2 separate regions of the Homo sapiens genome follow, and region 1 is linked to region 2. Evidence: fine-mapped expression QTL. Tissue or cell type: nasal epithelium. Region 2 holds a variant in brackets; the other region holds the start of a gene. All regions are shown on one strand. Distances are from middle to middle.

Region 1 (8,179 bases), 68 kb before region 2:
TCCCAAACTGAGTTCATAATTCCTTCCACCTCCCAGCAGTGACAACATATTGCTCTTCCCCAAATATCCCCACCTTCTCATGCTCACTCACCCAGTTGTTCGACCCAAATCTTAGAAGTTAATCTTGATTTTTTTTTTCTTTTCCTTCTCCTTCCTTAACTTCTATCTCAAATCCATCAGCAAGACCCATGGGCCCCAAGTTCAAAATATACCTGGAATTCACCTACTTCTCTTCTACTATCTCAGACCAAGCCATCGTTATCTTTTGCTTAGATCATGCAATAGCCTTCAAACTGGTTTCATTTCCAAAACCCACCCCCACTCCACCACCACATCCATTCACCACACAGCAGCCAGCGTGGTCTTTGCAAAACATAGATGGATCACATCACTTCCCTGCTTAAACTCCTTCAGCAGTTCTCAATTACACACAGGAGACAATTCACCTCTTTCAACATGGGCTCCAAGGCCTTGGGTGATCTCCCTCCTGTCTATCTCCCTGACACATCTCCTGCTGTCCTTCCCTTTGGGGATGCAGGCAGAAGATTGGCCAATGTATTCCACATGATGTCTCTAAAGAGCTTACACTCTAATTGGGACACAGGTCTGATTTAGAGACAGCATGTCAATAAACACCCATGCTGCAGCTGTTCAGGTACAAACTCATGTGCTACGGGTAGAAAGAAATGGGGGAGCTGAGGGTGTCTTGTAGAACAGCTAGAGTAGAAGGAACCAAGACTGTTGTGTACCACTGTGTACTCAGCACGTGGCATGATGGCTGGCATATGACAGGGGTCAATAAACACATATTGAGCAAATGAATGACATACACAAAAGATGAAGATGAATGAATGATACGATTCCTGCCCTACTGGAGCCCATAGCCAGGTGGGGGAGGCTAACTAATAAAGAAATGCATGATGGTAAGACATAGGATGGCAGGGTACATTCAACGTACTCTAAAGCGTACATGGGTAGGAACTATCAACTCAGCTTAGAGAAGGGTCACGGAAGACTTCAGACAAGGAAGTGACACTTAGCTGAGACTGAAAGGATAATTAGAGAGGAGTCCAGATGAGATGCAGGAGACAGGCCATGGTGCAGGTAGATGAAGCATGGGGCCCACTGCTGGTGGAGGCCACTAAAGAACCGGACATGACAGTGTGGAACCAAGCATCAAACTATGTGTCACAGAGCACAGGGCTCTATGAAAGGATAAGATAGAGAGCACTGGTTGGCACATAGTAGGTTGTCAGTGTATGTTGGCAGAAGGAATGCCTGCTGGATTACTAAAGGCAATTTAGAACAGATTTGAGTGGGTCTCGAAATGTAAAAACCACAGTCTAAATGGAAGGCAATATGTTAATATAGGTCATAATTAGTATTGAAGAGAAGATAGTCACCAATGATATGGATCGCTCAGGAGGAGCAGAAGCCAGGTGGATAAACAGGTATGTCAGCTGGGTGCAGTAGCTCACGCCTGTAATCTCAGCAATTTGGGAGGCTGAGGCAGGTGGATTGCTTGAGGCCAGGAGTTCGAGACCAGCCTGGCCAACATGCCAAAACCCCACCTCTACTAAAAATACAAAAATTAACCGGGCATGGTGGCGGGCACCTGTAATCCCAGCTACTTAGGAAGCTGAGGCAGGAGAATTGCTTGAACCTGGGAGGGAGAGGTTGCAGTAACCCAAGATTGTACCATTGCACTGCAGCCTGGGCGACAGAGTGAGACTCTGTCTCAAAAAAAAAAAAAAAAAAAAGAAAAAAAAATAGGTATGTTCAACACTCCAGCAGGCCATGCCTTCTGGCCCTGCCATGATGGGTGGGAGGAAGGAGAAGCAAGGGGAAAGACACCTCTTGACTTATTTGGCTGCTATGTGGAGGCTGCCTGGGCTCTGCCTGCCCTGGAGCCTGCTGCCCCTGCCTCCTGGTGGAGGGCTGGTCTTGAGAGGCGCTCCCAGGAATGCTGATCCCCAGGGAAGGTAGCTTTGCTTGTGGTCTGCCAAGGTGAAAGCCTGGGTCTCAAACATCTGACCCTCCTTGCTTCATCTTTGCCCAGATACTGCAAGGACAAAATCACTGGGACTTGGCAGTCTCCAGCAGTCTGAAAGGCTGGGGAATTCAAACGGAGTGAGTGTCTGCCTGGAAAATGTTTGTCCAGGTGGAACTGGTGACTGGGAACAAACACTCTGGGTAGTTTTGAAAGACAAAAAGACAGAGCAGGGCAGGCTTGGGGAATGTGGGAGGCATGGGACATCCCCCTTCTGCGCTCTGGAGAAGGACAAAGGATGTGAATTATCTTTGAGCTTCTCTTTTTTTAAAACCCTAACCCTCCCCATGCCACCCTGCATATTGCCTTCATGTCGCATCCTAGTGGTCATAACCATGGCAGGGGAGGTTGAAAGCATCAATAGCTAATAAAAATAGCTAAGCTTCTACTGAGCTAGCTATTGTTCTAAAGCCTTTACATTAATTGGCTCGTTCAGTCTTCTCAATAACTTAGAGGTAGGTTCTTTTTCCATTCCCATTCTACACATGGAGATCCGAGCTCAGAGAGATGAAGCAACTTGCTCAAGGTCACACAGACAGGAAGTCTCAGACCCAGGATTGGAAGTAGGCCATGTGGCTCCTGAAATCACGTGCTCTTGGGATGACTCTGAGGCAGAGAGTGGAGAAAGACTCCCAAGTCTGAGGAAACCAGTGAAGACTGTGGCCAAGAAGTAGCTGTTGAAGCTGTGTTCACTGACAGGTTCAGATAGCCCCTGATCTGGGTGCCGGGAGGATCCTGGCTCTGTCATGTGGGTAAAATGCACTTGGCAAACACCCTACACTTGCAAAACCTTTTTTTTTTCCTCATTGGTGCGGTGGGAAAATGATCACTAATCCACAGTAACATGAGGAATGAATGAAGGAGCACGTGCAAAGTGCCTGATGCATACGTAGTAGGTGCCAATAAATGTGCTCCTTCTCTCCTTGGTAAAGTTGGCTTCCGGCTAGGCTCAGTCATCCTTTCCACAAATATATGTGGAGAGAACAGGCTAGAGCAACGAGGTTGGGAGTGGGGAAATGACCCAGGGTGATCAGAGGACAAAAATAGATTTTAATTAACCCGTAAGAACCTAGTGCAGGACAAATGAGAGTTAGCTTCAAAGCAATAGCCTTAGGTGGGTGCACTGTTGTTCCAGAGATGCTGATGCTACACCAAACACTGACACCAGCCCTTAGATTCTCCCCCCAGGACAGGCCTGGTGTGATTCCCATGTTGGGGGTGCTAGGGCAGGAGGCGGCCTTTTAAGGAAACTGAGTCTCAGGGACAGGAACCACCTGGCAAAATCACACAGCTACTCAGGGCAAGAGCAGAAGCTGGGGCTTTGATTTCTCCGCTGGAAGTCTCTCCCACACCGGCGGGCCTCTCATCCTTCCTTAGCCTCACATGCTACATTGGAGATAGACTATTCTGCTCTCATCTGAGGCCATGGTTTATTCAAGACTGGCTCAGAATGGCTTTGGACTATTTGGACTATTTTCTAAAATAACTAAACCCATCTCAGGAGGAGGAAGCTGGGGATGTCCAAGGGAATGTGCCCATGCATCTGCCTGGCAGTGGCCGGGCTTGGAGTAGAAGCTGAGTGCACCATGATCACTGCCAAGTGCCGGCATCAAGCATTTGGTTTCTACACCAGCTTCACGCAGAGGACAAGGGCCAGCCATTTTCTGGTGGAAGAAAAGGTCTGAGGCGAATATTCCTTTTTTTTTTTTTTTTTTTTGAGATGGACTTTTGCTTTTGTTGCCCAGGCTGGAGTGCAATGGCACGATCCCGCCTCACCGCAACCTCTGCCTCTCTGGTTCAAGCGACTCTCCTGCCTCAGCCTTCCGCGTAGCTGGGATTACGGGCATGCACCACCATGCCCAGTTAATTTTGTGTTTTTAGTACAGACGGGGTTTCATCATGTTGGTCAGGCTGGTCTCAAACTCCCAACCTCAGGTGATCTGCCCGCTTCGGCCTCCCAAAGTGTTGGGATCACAGGCGTGAGCCACTGCGCCCGGCCGCAAATATTCTTGTATTGGGAGCCTTGGGCTTTTTAGAGTCACCTCAGAGGTTAGTGGGGTGCTCTACGGGAGCCTGTTTAAGAGTCTGGAGTCCTTAGTCTAGGTTTGCGAAAGATCTTCCAGAAGCGAGATCTATTCAATTCTGAAGAAATAACTCAGGAGGTCTTTCAGAAACTCCTTCCCGCTGGACCTCACGGGACTCTCCTGGACTCGGTGGGTTGAGGTTTGATCCTCTTTGCAGGCCAGGGGATGGATTAGGTGACCCCAGAGGAGCCCTGCTGACACCTGGATTCCAGCTGCTTTCGTGGCCATGTGGGGGTGGCTGTGCGTGCCCCGCCACTGCGTGCGTGGGTGTCTGTGTGTGTTATCGGTGGGGGGCGCGTGAGTGTGGCCGCGGGTGGGTGTGTCCGATGTGCCCCGGCTTGGGACCGCGCCCGCTGCGCCCACTTGTGGCTCCTGGGAGCCGCCAGGGGGAACCGCGCCTTCACCGCCTCTGCCGAGGACGCCGCCAGATAGGAGGCTGATGACATGAGGGCTCCGTCTCCCGAGTGATGGCAGCGCGCGCTGCTTCGCCGCCTCCGCCGCTCAGCCCCGGACTCCTTACGTCAGGGTAGCGGGGTCCCCCCTCCGCGCGGGAGCCAGCGAACAGCGAGAGAGCACAGCAGAGCGCGCCGCGGAGCCGGGGCGCCCTCACTGCGCTAGGAGCCCCACTAAACCCAGCGGAGCGGAGCCTGGCGGGAGGCAGCGCCGCGGAGCCAGCGCCGGACGCCGCAAGCAGACTCCCCGGCCAGCGCAAGCACTCCCTGGCCGGCGCCGGACCCTCGGGGCGCCGGATTCGTCTTGTGTGCCCCACGTCATGCGCGCGGGCGTCCGCGGCTCTCCCGACCAGCCCCAGCGCGGTGGGCCCAGGCTCAGAGGTCCCGGCGCCTCTCGCTGAAGTAGTTGGGTAGCCGGGGCTGGGGGTCGCCACGTCGGGGGCGCGGCCAGGACCCGCGGAGCCGGTCCCCGAGCGCGGGGAGCGGGGCCGCCCGCGCCGCCCCACCATTACCTCCCCGGGCGGCAAGGAGGAGCTGGTGGCGGTCGCCTCCCGGCTGTGGCAGCGGCGGCGGCGTGCCTGCCTGGCGGCCGTCGGCGTACTCTTGGCCATGGCGCTCGGGCTGCTCATCGCCGTGCCGCTGCTGCTGCAGGCGGCGCCCCGAGGCGCCGCGCACTATGAGATGATGGGCACCTGCCGCATGATCTGCGACCCTTACACTGCCGCGCCCGGCGGGGAGCCCCCGGGTGCAAAGGCGCAGCCACCCGGACCCAGCACCGCCGCCCTGGAAGTCATGCAGGACCTCAGCGCCAACCCTCCTCCTCCTTTCATCCAGGGACCCAAGGGCGACCCGGGGCGACCGGGCAAGCCAGGGCCGCGGGGGCCCCCTGGAGAGCCGGGCCCGCCTGGACCCAGGGGCCCTCCGGGAGAGAAGGGCGACTCGGGGCGGCCCGGGCTGCCAGGGCTGCAACTGACGGCGGGCACGGCCAGCGGCGTCGGGGTGGTGGGCGGCGGGGCCGGGGTAGGTGGCGATTCCGAGGGTGAAGTGACCAGTGCGCTGAGCGCCACCTTCAGCGGCCCCAAGATCGCCTTCTATGTGGGTCTCAAGAGCCCCCACGAAGGCTATGAGGTGCTGAAGTTCGATGACGTGGTCACCAACCTCGGCAATCACTATGACCCCACCACGGGCAAGTTCAGCTGCCAGGTACGCGGCATCTACTTCTTCACCTACCACATCCTCATGCGCGGCGGCGACGGCACCAGCATGTGGGCGGACCTCTGCAAGAACGGGCAGGTCAGTGACCCCTACACTCACCGGCCCCCGTAAACCCTCGCCCGCGCCCTGAACCTCCCAGGGAACCAGCCTCCTTTCTCTCCACCCGCGGGCTACCCTGCGAGCCCCGGGAATGAACGCGCCTCGGTGCCACAGTATCTCCGCTTCCCGATGCGCCGAGGCCGCGCTCACCGGGACGTAGAGCCAAATGTTGGGCCTTGAGAGCCCAGAGACCCCCATACCTAAACTACACTCCTTGGCCACTTGCGTCCCTGCCTGCCTCTCCGTGGGCTTCTCGGAAACCTCAGTTCTTTAGTTCTCTCCAGGTCGCCCCCTTGCCCTGCAGCCTCCTTTCCTCTTGGCCCTGGCCCCTGGCTCCCACCCTTCCACTCTGGGTCAGTGTTCATGAAGCTTCCCCTCTCCCTATTTCCCAGACTCGTCGGCGCGAGGAGGAGGGGGGACCTGGAAGGAGTTGACTAAGTTGGAGAGAGAACATGGAGCTGGGGTGGGAGTGTGGACCCTGAAGCAGCAGGCGGGAGGCCCGTGAGTGGCGCGCCTGGTGTGGGCTGAGCAAAGGCGCGGGAAGAGGTGCCCCGGCTCACCTGCTCCCACCGCTTGTCCCCAGGTCCGGGCCAGCGCCATTGCACAGGACGCCGACCAGAACTACGACTACGCCAGTAACAGCGTGGTGCTGCACTTGGATTCAGGGGACGAAGTGTATGTGAAGCTGGATGGCGGGAAGGCTCACGGAGGCAATAATAACAAGTACAGCACGTTCTCGGGCTTTCTTCTGTACCCGGATTAGGGGCGCGGGGGGTGCGAGGCGGGGTGGCTGCAGGCCGCCCGGTCTCCGCCCGGGCGCGGCTCCTTGGCAAAGGCCACTCTCGATTCATAACACTTCCTGACATCTCCTTTGGAAAAGACAAATCCCTGCGTCCTCCCTGCCCCGCTCCTGGCCTCAGTGCGTCTGCGACCCACCACGCTCAGGGCTGTGCTCCTGGTCTCCATCCCCATCCCGGCAAGGGAGGAAGGGACGCCCGAGCCCTTGAGGCGGCGGCACAGACTTTGCAAACCTGATTAGACTGGACAGGCAGGGCCGGGAGCCTGCCCTCCTCAGACAGCCTCCTCCCAGTGCCTAGAAGCGGAGGGCTCCGGGCCCTGGCCAGGGAGGTAGGCCAGAGGGAGCGCGGGCTTCCTGGGGCGTCCTTCTTTGTGACCCGAAATACTTGTGCAGATTTCCCTGTCCATCAGCCAAAACCCCACCCACAGCAGAATTCCAGCAAACAGAAAATTCACCTCTCCACACCGCATTCCCTCCTGACTCAGACTCACCGCGATGCATTAAATTATGTTTTTAGACTATGCGTTCTGTTGTCTGTATGTCGACACATCCTGGACCAGGGCTCCAGATGTCCGCCTTGGCATAAAGACCTTACCTGGGCCCAGGATAGGCCCATCTATGACCTGCTCCCCAGCCGCTGCTATGTCCCTGCCACCAGAAGTTGCCGAAAAGACATGGGGTAAATGGGAGCTGCATCCCACCCTTCCCAGAAGCTCTCCCCAGGCTGCAGCCCTGAGCTGGAGAGGCCGGAGGTGGGGTTGGGAGGAGGGGAGGAGGCGGGGAAAGGCATCAGGGAGAGTTAGAGGAAAGCAGGAGAGGAATGATTGGGTCTCCAGTCTTGGGCAACTTGGGCAACTTAGTCCTCCCGGAGTTGTGGGTGGAGGTCAGAGGGGAGGGGCTTCTGGGGAAGGAAGGGGAAGAGAAGGCATCTATGGGAAATGGGAGGCGTGAGTGACACTTGCCGGGGAGGGATCTGTAGGATGTTTGGCTCCTAAAAGGAAGTGCAGAAGTCCCTAGCAGACACACACCCGCTCGAGCGGATGGTTCACTAAGCACAGGCCTGTTTACTCACAGCCGCCAGGGCCACCGCTCTCCGGAGAGCTGGTAAACTGAGGCAATTCCGCGGATCATCCAGCTTGCTGAACTTCCTCAGGGCTGTGTGTTGAGGTGGACACCATTCCTTGGGGAGGGACGCCTCTTTCCTGCGGGCTTCCCTTCCCTTATGCATGCGATTTGGGGTGCCTGCTCTGAACCTGAGTGTGTGTGTTTGGTGTCCCATCAGCATTCTACACACACACAAGTTAGGAAAACACCCCGCATGGTTTTGATTTTTTTCTTTTTACTTTTTTTTTGTTGTCAGATCACTGAGTTACAACAAAGTTATGTACAAAATAACCAGTCAGCTCCCAGCAACCTGTTAGTGCTTACTGAGGTCACTTTTACGGGTTGTGTGAAAAGAAATGTGTGAGTATACACAAAA
Region 2 (8,179 bases):
TCAGTGTTTTTTGCTGTTGTTGTTGTTTTTTTTTTTTTTGGACAGGGTCTCACTGTGTTTAGGCTGGAGTGCAATGTTGTGATCGCAGCTCACTACATTCTTGACCTTCCAGGCTCAATCGATCCTCCCACCTCAACATCCTGAGTAGCTGAGACTAAAGGCACATGCTACCATGTATTGCTATTTCTTTCTTTCTTTTCTTTTTATTTTTGGTAGAGATAAATTTTGCCATGTTGCCCAGGCTGGTCTCAAACTCTCAGGCTCAAATGATCCACTCGCCTTGGCCTCCCAAAGTGTTGGTATTACCGGTGTGAGCCACTGATCCAGGATAGTGGGTTTTTTTTTGTTTTTTTTCAAATCATGAAATGATATTGAATTTTGTCAAATGCTTTTTCTACAGCAATTAAAATAATCATGTGTTTTCTTTTTCTTCATTCTGTTCATGTAATGTATTGCATTGATTGATTTTTATGTATCGAATCATCCTTGCATTCCAGGAATAAATTCCACTGGTCATGGTATATAATCCTTTCAATACACTGCTGCTGAATTTGTTTTCCTAGAATTTTGCTGAGATTTTTGCATCAGTGTTAACTAGGGATATTGGTGTGTAGCTTTCTTGTAGTGTCTTTGGGTGTGGGTTTTTATATTGAAGAAAAATATTCTTCAAAAATAAAAATGAAATAAATAAAAGCCAAGATAGTTCATTACCAAAAAACATTCTTTAAGTGAAATATTAAATTTAGGTTAAAGGAAAATAGTATCAAATAAAAACTAAGGTCTATGGAAAGTAACCAAACATTGGAAATGGCAAATGTGAGTGAATATAAATGCTTATTGTTTCATTTTAAAAAATTTATTTAAGCAATTTCAAAGCAAAAATAATAACATTGTATTGTGGGATTAACATTGTATTGTGGGATTTACATGACAATAGTGGAACAAAGGATAGGGAGTGTATTATATATCTTTAAGATTTATACATTTTGCCTGAAGTGGTGCTCAGTAGACTGTGATGACTTAAAGATGTACATTGTAATCTACAGAAACTACTAAAAAAATGTAGAGAGGAATAGCTAAAGAGCTAGCATGAAAAATAAAATACAATTCTAAAAAATATTTGACTAACATAAAAGAAGGCAGAAAAATAGTAGAGAAACCAAAAATAAAGCTAAAGCAAAGAAAACAAATAGGGAGATGGTAGACTTAAACCCAACTGTATCAGCAATGGCATTACATATAAATAGTTTTACCTGCAAGAAAAAGGCAGAGATTTTTAGACCAGAAAAAATAAATAAAACCAACTATATTACATCTACAAAAACTTCTACATTTTCTTTTTTTAAATAAGAAAATATTTTTTGTAGAGAAGGGGTCTCACTATATTGCCCAGGCTGGTCTCGAACTCTATGTCTCAAATGATTCTCCCTTCTCAGCCTCCCAAAATGTTGGGATTACAGGCATAAGCCACTGGGCCCAGCATACCCTTTTATATTTAAAAACGCATCTTTAAGTATAAAGACACAGATGTGTTGAAAGCAAAACAATGCAAAAATATCTAACACAAATGGTAAACATAATAAAGCTGGTGTGTGGCTATTTTAATATCAAAATAAATTACAGGATAAGAACTGTTAAGGAATGTTAGACAGAGATAAAGAGTTTTCAAAAAATTTTTTAAAAGGCTAATTCAGCAGTCAATTACTGTGTTTGCATCTAATAAGAGAGCTTCAACATATATAAAGCACAAACTGATGGAAATAAAAGGAGAAATATTTAAAGCAACAATCATATTAGAAAATTTTAACAGCCTCCTTAGTGATTGATAGAACAATTAGACAAAAGAAATCAGCCATGATATAGAAGACTTGAACAACGCTAGCTACCAACTTGCCCTAATTGACATTTATAGAGCACTTCCTCCAACAACGGCAGAGCACACATTCTTCTCATGTGTATAGAGAACATTGACCAAGGTAGACCTTAATACTGACTGTGAAGTAAGTATTATAAAATTTTACAAAAATATTTTTCCTATTGCAAATAAATTCCAAAAAATTGGCACAAGATGGAACAGTATTTCTGAATAGCCCTATATCTATGAAATAAATTGAATTTGTCTTCAAAGGCCTTCCCCAGAAGAAAACTCCAGGCCTAGTTAAATTCATAGGCCAGTTCAATCAAACACCAGGCCTAGTTAAATTCATAGGCCAGTTCAATCAAACACCTAAGAAACAGTACCAATCTTACACAAACTTTTTCAGAAAATAGAGGAATAGTCTTCCCTGCTTAATTCATTGTATGAGGTCAGCATTACCCTGTATTAGCAAAACCAGACAAAGATATTAGAAGAAATCAGCATTACACATGAACTTATATGCAAAAATCCTCAAGAAAATTTTAGCAAGTTGAATTTACCAATATGCAAAAAGTTAGTAATACCATGAGCAAGTAGAATGGAAACACAAGAATACAAAAATCATTTAGCATTCAAAAATCCATCACGATAATTATACTAACAGGATAAAGAGAAAAAAAAGAACTATTTCCATAGATGTAAACAAATATTTGATGAAATTCAACATCCATTCAGGTTAAAACTTTTCAATAAACTAGGAATAGAATGGAACTTCCTCATCTGATGAGGAGTTTCTCAAAAATCCTGCAGCTAATACCATTCTCAATGGAGACAAACTGTATATATTCACACCAAAACTGGGAACAAGTAAAGTATGCCCACTCTGATCATATATATTCAGTATTTTACTGAAGGTCATAGCCAGTGCAATAAGGCAAGAAATTGAATTAAAAAGTAGAGTGATTGAAAAGGAAGAAGTAAATCTGCCTTTATTAGTAGACAACATGATTGTCTACGCAGAAAATCATGAGTTTACCAAAAAAACCCTATGAGAACTAATAAGCAATTTTAATACACTTTTCAAGATATAAAGTCAATATACATAAAAAGTTTTTTTGTCTATTGACTATGTCTAGGAAAAATTTGAAATTGAACTTTGAAAAAGTACCATTTAAAATAGCATAAAATATTAGGAATAAATTTAACAAAATACACGTGAGCCTGCATACTAAATACTATAAAATATCATGAAAAATTAAAGAAGATCTAAAGTAAATAAAAAGGCTAGGCGCAGTGGCTTATGCCTGTAATCCCAGCACTTTGGGAGGCCAAGGCAGGAGGATCACTTCAGGTCAGGAGTTCGAGGCCAGCCTGGCCAACATGGTGAAACCCCGTTTCTACTAAAAATACAAAAATTAGCTGGGCATGATGGTGTCCACCTGTAATCCCAGCTACTCTGGAGGCTGAGGCAGGAGAATTGCTTGAACCTGGGAAGCAGAGGTTGCAGTGAGCCGAGATCATGCCACTGTGCTCCCGCCTGTGTGACAGAGTGAGACTTCGTCTCAAAAAAAATTTAATAAATACAATTTAAAAATAAAGTAAATAAAAAGATATTCTGGTATTCATGGATCAGAAGAATCAACGTTATTAAGATGTCAGTTCTCCTCAAACTGATGTATAAATTCAAAGCTATCCAATCAAATTGTCAGAAAATTTTCTTGTAGAAGTTGACAGATTGATTCAAAAATTTAAAAGGAAATGTAAAGAACCAACTATAGTGAAAATAATCTTGAAAAAAAAACTGGAAGGCTTATATTAATTGATCTCAAGACTTACTGTAAAACTATATTATTGAGACAATATACTCTTGGCATTGGGCTATACTAAGACCAGGAAAATCAATGAAAGAAAAGAGAATCAGACCCATGTATATATGACCAGTTGATTTTCTAGAAAGGCACTGACGCAAATCAGTGGGTGGAAAAGAAAGTCTTTTGGGCAAAAAGTGCTAGGGTTGAGGGACAAATATAAAATATAGAAAAAAATCCCTGACCCTCTCTACTTCACACATAACACAAAAAGTAAGTTGAGGTGGATCACAGACCAAAACAAAAGCTAAGTAAAAAGTTTCTAAGCAAAAAAAACATTTTTGAAAAATTTTTGACACCTGGAGGTAGGCAGAGATTTCTTAGAGAGGACACAAGAAGCTCTATCCATAGAAGAAAAAGTTGATACATTAGATTTCATCAAAATTAATAATTTCTGCTGAGCAAAAGACACTATTAAGAAGATGTAGAACACATTACAGGCTGGGAGAACAATCTATATACCTGACACATGTCTTGAATCTAGAATATGGAAATAATTCTTATACATCAACAGTAAAAACACAAACACTCCAATAAAAATGAAAAATATTTTGATAGCCACTTCACTAAAGCATAGGACTTAAAGGGATTATTCCCCTCCCCTCCCCTCTCCTCTCCTTTCCTTTCCTTTCTCCTAAGCCTATGCTCTTAAATAATTCATTTGAATTTTGAGACTCTGAGGACCTTTGAGCAAAATCTGCTACCCATCATTCCACCCACCTCTCACCCACTCACCCATCCACCTACCCCTTCATCCATATCCAATCAACTTTCAGCAAGGCCCCTGAGCAGCTCACAGTCTGAAACAGCGGCAGAGGGATCAGCAAGTAGACTCCCGTGTGATGCCTGCTAGGACAAAGGAAGGCCCGGGGGGCTGTGAAGGCACAGAGGAGAAGCCCCACCTAGTTAGTTATTGCTGGGAGGCTTTCAGAACAGGACGGAAGGGCACTGCACTTGAGATGATCTCCTTCTGCCACAACGTTCCTTGGGTCTCCGTCGCTTCTGGACTGGGCACAGCGATGTCTCCAGAGGAGAGAACGGTTATATACTTTCT[G/A]GTTGGGAAAGGGTGAGGAGGTGGACCAGGAAGGACAAACCTCAGCTGCTGCCCTTTCCTTTTGTCTTCCTTCCCTCATTCACTCATCCTGGACCGGCCACTGTGCCTCCACAAGAGGATACTGCCGTTCCACTGAGCTTTGAGGGGAAGAACCTAGAAAAACAATCCCTCAGGAACAATCCATTGGTCTGGCCACGTCTCCTGCCTGCTCAGTTTTCAGCCAGCCTGTGTGGGATGTACAGAGAGAAAGCTGGGTCAGGGCCAAACCTCAGAGACCCTCTGTCCCAGCACAGGAACTGCACCTGTGTTCCTGAAGCAATTCAGGAGGAGCAGTGTCAGAGGAGAATTGATGAAAACTAACAGGGAAGAAGGGAGGTGAAGGAAGGCAGATGTAGTCTGAAGGGGCTTCCTGAAGGAATGGGGCTTGAAAACAAGATTTGGGAAGCATATAGATATGATGAGGATCCTGGAGGGCATTATGTTAACAGTAACAAATGATTACTAGTTTGAGAAGCACTTATGATTTTTCCCTATTGGCCAAGGTCAGTGTTTACATGGATGATCGCATTATCATTTTAGGGGGGGAGAAGAATCAATCTAAACAAAGGCATTTTCTCTCTGGAGCTGCCCTGGGTAGTCCCCACATGGCCCCCCACCTCATGCATGTAGGCATGCAGACATGCATGTGTGCACACGAAATGCAGCTTGAGATTCCCTGGGATAGAGCTCAGGAGCCAAGTTTCATGCAGTCCCTTAGTTCTCATCTTGTTCATCGATATAAATTAGTGAGCACATTGGTCTGTCAGGCAGCATCCATTTATTTGAATTTACTCAGGGAAGAGCACAGCATGGTGGGGAGTGCCTGCCTGCCACCCCTCTGCCTAGCCTACAGAGAGCTGTGCATGTATGCCCCTTGAACTCCCCATCAATCAAATGACGGCTTTTACATGGTGTCTGCTGGGGCCTGGCACTGTGCTCCCAAAAGAGCCGGAAGGTCTGATCCACGGCTCATAACCTTATTGGGAAGGTGATGGCCATAAAGATGGACCAACTGAACAGGAGACACAGATCAGAAGAGCATGCTGATGTGATACAAGACTAAATGTATGGCGTGGGCCTTGTGTTCCCCAGACTGTGTGCTGAGAGTCTAGGTTTCTGTATAGGAGACGCAGGGCCACTGTGGGAGATGTGGTGGGACGGCACAACAGGGGGTGCTCTGACCTCTTTTCTGCTTTAACCAGCTCCACTGACACCTGTTTCAGGGATAATACACTTCCGGTAAGATTTCATTCATGTTCTATTTCCCATCAAGAATGCTGCTGCTTGGGAGGCCAAGGTGGGCAGATCACAAATTCAGGAGATCGAGACCATCCTGGCTAAAACGGTGAAACCCCGTCTCTACTAAAAATACAAAAAAATTAGCCGGGCGTGGTGGCGGGTGCCTGTAGTACCAGCTACCTGGGAGGCTGAGGCAGGAGAATGGCGTGAACCTGGGAGGCAGAGCTTGCAGTGAGCCGAGATCCTGCCACTGCACTCCAGCCTAGGCGACAGAGTGAGACTCCATCTCAAAAACAAAACAAAAAAAAAAAAGAAAAAAAAATGCCGCTGCACTCTCAACCCCCTAATAAAAGTCTTAGTTTTCTACAGATGGGGCTTTCCATTGTGACAGTCCTTGAGAGGCAGTGGGGAAAATTGAGGCTTTGGGGAAAGTTTGCAGAAGGTGACCAAGGAAACAGGGCCTGGACCAAGGGCCAGCCTTGATCGAGACAGGAATCGCCCTGCTCTGGGATGTGAGGGTCCCTCAGTCAGAGATCTCCTCTTGCCTAGATAGAGCCCCGTTCCCTGCTACCCCCAGGAGGGCAGTCGGAAGCACCTGCTGCCTTCCTTACTCCTTGTCACTTGTCAACTTCAGAGCAATCAGTCTGCTACTTAACACTTAACAGGCAAAGCACTCCAGCACTGCATCCGATTTGTCTTTGTTAGTGCTAACAGCAGAAGGGTGTGCAGGTCTCATTGTGTCGGCCTCCCTGCGGATGCTGCACCTGGGGCTCACTGTGCAATCATCTAGGCCTGCTACAGTCACCCAGTGAGGCACTCGGCAGAGTCTCACCCAGCACAGTGAGTCTGCTTCGCAGAGCCTGCCGGAAATGGCCACTGTGGGAGGGAGCATTTGTCAGGGGGGCCCTGCAACTGAACTGAGGAGGAGACCCCAGGCAGAAACCCACCTTGTAGTCTGTCTCCCCTGTGAATTCTCATGGGCACATGCATAGTGTACTGAGTTCATTTCATCAACACTGGACAAGCTAAGTGCTCAGGATACAGTGGGGATAGTAGATCACAACCCTACCCTCAAAAGGCTCACAGTCTAGGAGACAGGGGGCTGACAGGTCTACAGGTAGTAGCCAGCAATATTGTAAATGCTAGCATGGAGGTGGGTTCACAGTCTGTTGCAGAGGAGATCTCATCCAACCCAGCCAGGTGAGGTCAGGAAAGGCCTCTGGGACTCAGATGTGTGGAGTAGCACAGTTGCCAAAGGGCAGGAGGGGAGCACCGAGCTGGAGAAGTGGCCAAAGGGATGTGGAAGAGAGTGAGCTGGAAGATCACGGGTGGGTCGGCCTTGCTGGAATATTTTTGAACTATTGTGTTTCTATCATTTAGCTGCCATTTATCCACACTATCCACTTCTATTGTTCTCTCTTCATAGATCTTCCTATACTTTCTTTGCCATCTATCCAACTACCTACCTGTGATTTATCTACCATCCATCCATCCATCCATGCATCCATCCATCCATCCATCCATCCATGCATCCATCCATCTGTCCCTCTGTCCCTCCATCCACCCATGCATCCATCTCTAGAAGTCTTCAGGTCGTGCCCCAAAACAGATCTGTCTCCAAAGAACTCTCTCAGCTCAGTGCCTGAATTTTACAATTAGAGATGTATTCTTGCTGTAAATGCTAATAATCTCTCAGCATTTCTAACAAGCACACAGCCCAGCGAGCGGCAAAAGAAGTCAGCAATGCGCAGCCTGTGCAGTTCTTATCAAATCACATGTCTTTGGTAGGTGGCCCCTGGGACGCAAGGATAAGCATGGAAAGGTCTGAGAGAAGCAGTGGGACCAATTCCAGAGGGCCAGGCCCACTTCTGAGGATTTGCTGTTGATGTATCCATGTCCTTGGGGCCAGCCTTCCCTGACTGTAAACCCCAGGGAGGCTGGTGTGGGGTGTCTCCATCTCGTTCATCTGTCACAGTGATGGTACATGTTATGGGCCCACTAAATTCTTTTAAATGAATGAATGCCCTTGGAACTTTTGGACAAGGGAAAAGTCATTGGAGGGGTTTGCACTAACTCCCTGTAGAAGCATCTGGAAATGGGGCAAACAGAGCTGGCCCCTCA

Evidence for each region. PIP is the estimated chance that this variant, and not a neighbour inherited with it, causes the effect.
Region 1: C1QL2 starts here. The variant in region 2 is the best candidate, but not a certain one, in a credible set for the expression of C1QL2 in nasal epithelium (TOPMed, PIP 0.62).

Annotation. Positions count from the first base shown.
Region 1 is chr2:119,155,286-119,163,464 of GRCh38, reverse strand. It overlaps C1QL2 (complement C1q like 2), which reads left to right and starts at 4,714. Exons shown (of 2, transcript NM_182528.4): 1 at 4,714-5,879; 2 at 6,484-7,222. The coding sequence starts at 5,196. The coding sequence ends at 6,663. RefSeq lists an enhancer at 5,536-6,346.
Region 2 is chr2:119,087,580-119,095,758 of GRCh38, reverse strand. No RefSeq gene overlaps it. Among named protein-coding and RNA genes, the nearest start is that of C1QL2, 67 kb to the left of the region's middle. The variant G/A (reference allele first, on the strand shown) is at 4,781.